2 separate regions of the Homo sapiens genome follow, and region 2 is linked to region 1. Evidence: fine-mapped expression QTL. Tissue or cell type: subcutaneous fat. Region 1 holds a variant in brackets; the other region holds the start of a gene. All regions are shown on one strand. Distances are from middle to middle.

Evidence for each region. PIP is the estimated chance that this variant, and not a neighbour inherited with it, causes the effect.
Region 2: IRAK4 starts here. The variant in region 1 is fine-mapped to the expression of IRAK4 in subcutaneous fat (FUSION, PIP 0.95).

Annotation. Positions count from the first base shown.
Region 1 is chr12:43,587,198-43,589,883 of GRCh38, reverse strand. No RefSeq gene overlaps it. Among named protein-coding and RNA genes, the nearest start is that of ADAMTS20, 36 kb to the right of the region's middle. The variant C/T (reference allele first, on the strand shown) is at 1,433.
Region 2 is chr12:43,757,324-43,760,009 of GRCh38, reverse strand. IRAK4 (interleukin 1 receptor associated kinase 4) reads right to left here and starts at 1,059. Exons shown (of 12, transcript NM_016123.4): 1 at 994-1,059. It overlaps PUS7L (pseudouridine synthase 7 like), which reads left to right and starts at 1,220. Exons shown (of 9, transcript NM_031292.5): 1 at 1,220-1,280. RefSeq lists enhancers at 353-412, 1,033-1,142, 1,483-1,532.

The DNA of each region.
Region 1 (2,686 bases):
AGACCAGATAGATGCACCTGGGTTGGTTATATATTTGGTAAAAATGTTTTGGAACACTGCAGCTGTCTGCAATTAGAAAGAAGGATTAATAAATTTATGAATCATGGTTCTATTTATTGCTCCCTTTGAAAGGTAATTATTTATAACCTTAAGTAGGATTACAGATTACATGTGTCAACAACATCCAATGATAAGCCAGGGATGTTCTGTAAGATGCAAATTCAAGTGACGTTGTAGCTTAAATTTGCATTATCAAGTTCAGATCATCAAGTTCAAATTCAGATATCTTATAACTCAAAATAGTTATTAATCACTCCCCCAAAATATTTAACTCAAACCCATAGATGATTAGTCCATTCTATTCAGTCTTTTTTATTTTTTTAACACATTCTCTATGCCAGGCACTGTGTCAGATACTAGGGACATAATCACAGGTTTAAAAAAAAAAAGACATAGCCCATTCCCCCAGGATGTTTGCTACCTGGAGGTATCTGGCCCCTTGCAACCTTTTAAAGTAGCCAGTTTGGCTATTCATCACCGTGACTGACAGATAAAAATAAAACTCAGAAGGTGACATCTGTTAAGATCATTTTTTTCCAGCCCTCTCCTGGCTCTTGACTCCCAGGATTTCAAATTCTGGTCTTCAGACTCTTGAATTCCAAACCTGCTTCTGCTCCTTCCATCTATTTGGGGATCTTTGATTTTCAGCTCATTGGATTTCACGTTTTCATTGAGCTTTGTTTTCTCCTTGCTTCTGACATTTCCTGGTCTTTTCCAGTTCTGGCCTAAGGAACCAGGCCAGATAAGTTAGCCCCAACCAATCTCATAGCTGAGGGAGTGGGATTCAGATAAATAAGGAGACAGAGGTGAAACACAGAATTGTAACATAATAAAAAGTGCTATACTGTTCGTGCATAACATGGTACACATTCATCGATGGTGATGTAATCAGCACTATAAATTGTGACCTCTATTGACTTCTGGCCCTATAGCTACATATCTTTATCTATACTCTGTTATTCTTCCATTCATCCTACAAATATTTATTATGCAACCACCATGTGCCACCCACATTCATTAATTTTCCTTCATCTCACAGATGTCTCTTCTGCTGTTTCAGGCTGCCACCCAGGCTTTGGAGAAGCAATGTAAAGCAATGAATAACCATGTGGAGTTAAGCTGCTTAGGTTCAAATCTTGACTCACAGTCCTTTATGTCTTAGTTCTTTGTCCATAAAATAGGAATAATCACACACCTACCTCCCTGGAGTGTTAAGGTTAATGTCATTTATGCATTAAAGCCCTACCCCAGGACCTGAAACAGTTAGATAGATATTCAGTGGGCGTAACTATTATTATCATTAATGATTCCACATTTTCATCTTCTCTAAGACCAGTTTTTCATTTTGCCATATTTTCAATCTTTCTTTATT[C/T]GCTCCTGTCTCTTATATCATTAAAAGTCCTCAATTCTGTATATCTCTAGCTATGACCCTCATCATTCTCCTTTCCTTTATAATTTGAATGATTAGAAATATTAATGCGCACTATTTCTATTTCCTTACATCGAATTCACTTCCCAGCCCTTCCCAATAATGCTCACTAATAATCATATTAATTTCCAAGTCCAAAGGTTGCTTGGCCCTCATTTGTTTGAATTACTACAGCATTCCTGAGACTTTCTTTTCCTTCGGCTCTGGCACACTGCTCTTTCTGGTTCTTCTTTCACATTTTCAACCATTTCTTCTCAGTCACTTTTACAGATTTCCCCATTCATACACCTACAACCAATACAATTGGTTGTAGAATTCTGTGATTTCTACGTTCTTAACGTATATTTTATCTACCTCATCCATTCTTTTTACACCACCGTTGCCTCAGCCCGTATCCTCTTTATGTCTGAATTGTTGCAATAGTTTTCAAGTTGGTCATATTGCTTAGTTTCTTGGCCCTTCATATTTTTGCTACAATAGTGATCCTTTCAAAATACAAATGAAATACACTATATTTCTCAGGTCAAAGCAGTGTGGAGGTAATAAGGGGACACAACATCAATATCAAAATAGTACTTCCCCTCCCAAAACTTATAACCCCAAACCCATCATGGGGAAAACATCAGGTAGATTTAAAGAGAGGAGGGTTCTGCAATATATCTTGCCAGTACTCCTCACAACTATCAAAGTCATCGGAAACAAAGAAAGTCCGAGAAAACATTACCACTAAGAGGGGCCTAAGGAGATATGACAACCAGTTGTCATGTCGTATCCTGGATGGAATCTTAAGAAAATGGGATCCTAAGAAAACTAAGAAAATATGACTAAACTATGAACATCAGTTAATACTCATGTATCAATATTGGTTTATTAGTTGTAATAAATCTAGCATATGAATATAAGATGTTAATAACAGGGGAAACCACAGGGGGTGGGCATGTGGAAACTCTTTACTATCTGTTCGATTTTTCCGTAAATCTAAACTGTACTACAAAATAGCCTATTAATAAAAAATAGTTTCTGTCTCTCCCTCTGTTTCCCAAATCTCCCTCCCTCTGTGGGAAGCTCTAGATCCCTCAAATTTTTATCCAAATACAGAAGCCTGGGTGGCTGGTGACATTTAATGTGTGCTCTGAAATAGTCTTGTTGTCCACTGTTTCTTCTGTCTTGTCCTTTCAAAGAAAAGAGAGAATAATG
Region 2 (2,686 bases), 170 kb before region 1:
AGATTTTAGTATCCTCTGCTTACCAGGGGCCTTGGGCAGTTACGTTTTTGAAGCACTAATAGCGCCGTTTGTTCCCATTCTAAATGCTCAAAGTGCTTTCTCGCTTTCTCAGGGTTTGCTTTTTTTTTTTTTTTTTTCTTTTGAGACGGAGTCTCCCTCTGTTGCCCAGGCTGGAGTGTAGTGGCACGATCTCGGCTCACTGCAACCTCTGCCTCCTGGGTTCAAGCGATTCTCCTGCCTCAGCCCCCGGAGTAGCTGGCATTACGGGCGCCCGCCACTATGCCAGCTAAATTTTGTATCTTAGTAGAGACAGGGGTTTCACCATGTTGGCCAGGCTGGTCTCGAACTCCTGACCTCAAGCGATCCGCCCGCCTGGGCCTCCCAAAGTGCTGGGATTACAAGCATGAGCCACCGCACCTGGACAGGGTTTGCTTTTATCCCTTTGTCTCCCTCTGGCTTCCAAGCTGACAGGTACACTTTTTTCCCCCATCTGCGAATGTACTCATCTGATCCCATAAGCCGCCTCCACTTTCTAATTCCCTGGAAGCTTGGAGGCCGGAGAAACAAGCGAATTACAATCGTGTGGAGGCTCAGCGAGCTGCTGGCGCCACAGGCATCTGTCAGGTGCTGGCCTGACTTCCTGGTTCTGGGGAAAAGAGACTTCATTTCGCAGTCGGGTTCACGGAATCCAGGGCCTGAGAGGTGAGAAACTTGAGGTCCGACTGCGCCCCAGAACAGCTGGGTGACGTCCCTCCAAGCCTCAGGCTCTTCCTCAGGGCCGACGAACTTCTTGATTACCGGGGACCTACCCAAGTCTTTCTTCTGGAGTAAGCTCTGTCAAAGGAACCCACTTCCTCTCTAACTTTTCTCACGGATGATAAAGAGATTTCCGTTCCGCAGCCGACCCCAGCAACCCTGGGGCAGAGGTGCCGAGGCCTGGAAGCGGACCTCGGACGACGTTTGACCGAGGCATTAAGGCGGGGAATGCCTTACCTGCCCGGGCGCGGGCTGCTGAAGCCGGCGACAGAAGAACCAGCCGAACTAGGAAGCGCCGCGAAGGGGCGGGGCCTGCCGGGTTGGCCCCGCCCCACTTCCCCGATGGGCTTCATCTTGGCGCCTCCAGGCGGCTCCACAAAGTGAGAAACTCCACGTATTGCGTAGGGCGCGTCTTTACGTGGGCGCCTGCCCCTTTAATTACGCCCCTGTCGGAGGCTGAAACACTTAAGGCTTCCGGGCATGCGCACAGCGTTGTGCAAATGAATGCCTTCCACTGAACCGAGGTAGACGGGGTCGAGTTTCTTGCGCGATGGTGGGCTTGTATGTGTGTGTGTGTGTGTGTGTGTGGGGGGGGGGGGTGACGAGGTTGGCATTGAGGATCCATACCCTTTGCGCCCAAAGAAAGGTGACGTGGACTAGTGTCGTGCCTTTGGACAGGCAGAGTAAGAGGAGGGAGAAGAAACAGGTAGAGCTGCTGGCCTTGTCGGGGACACCTTTGGACGTGCTGGAGGGCAACGACGCCCTAGTTTTCTGTGAAGTTAAGTAGCTTCTGCAGGACTGGGTTCAGTATTTCTAGTACCTTCTCAGGATCCCTCCTCCGCCAACGAATTCCTCAACCACGGGCCAAGCAAACTACTCCCCCGCCCACTGTCAGCAGCAGTCTCTGTTGAATGGGAATACTGCACCTTCAGGCTTAACGCCACGTGGGCTCCTTTGCTGTCCTCCAGGTCAGTTCCACTCTTCTACCAGGATGCTGGAATTACATTCTCCCCAAGTTTCCCTACCTGTTTCACTTGCTTAGAATGTCTGTCTTCCTCCTTTTTTCTGGGAGAAAGAAAAGATCATTATTCTTTCAGGGCCAATCCCTACAGCTATGTTCTTGACCATGCTGTTTTGTTTTTGAACTCCTCTAACTGTTACTCCATCGGATACATCTTGCTCATTTCCATCAGAATCATCTTACAATTCCAAAAGCATGTTTTGGAATTGTGTCACTTTTCTACTCAAACACTAACAGTAGCCATCCATTGACCACCCAATAGATTCTAAGTCCTTGTCAGGGCATTCAACATCTTCCATAATCTGGTACTAACTCAGCTACATTTTCCAGCACTGTAGTCTCCCTGCATTCCCATCCCCACTGCTCTGTATCTGGACTGCTTGTTTTTCTTGCACACATTGCATGTTTTGTTTGTACATTACTTGTGAGGTCTCTGCCTCATTTCTATCTCTTGAACTATGGAGGACTTAGATGGCCACTTCTTGCATTATGCCTCTTCTAATTATCTTCCACTTCATTCCTACAGCTCTTATTTTGTACTAGTTATTTCATTTATTTAACAATAGTATTTATTGCAGACCTACCATGTGCTTGACACTGTTCAAAATGTGTGATCATCAGTAGTAAATAAGGCAGACAAGGTTACTCCTCACGTGGAACTAACATTCTCTTTGGAGGAGATATACAATAAATAATAAAGAAAAACTTTACCTAGAACTGCTATGCAGAAAATTAAATAGGGTTTTGTGAAAGAGAATCACTTGCTGGGCACGGTGGCTCACGCCTGTAACCCCAGCACTTTGGGAGGCCGAGGCGGGTGGATCACGAGGTCAGGAGTTCAAGACCACCCTGGCCAATATGGTGAAACCCCATCTCTACTAAAAAAATACAAGAATTAGCCGGGCGTGG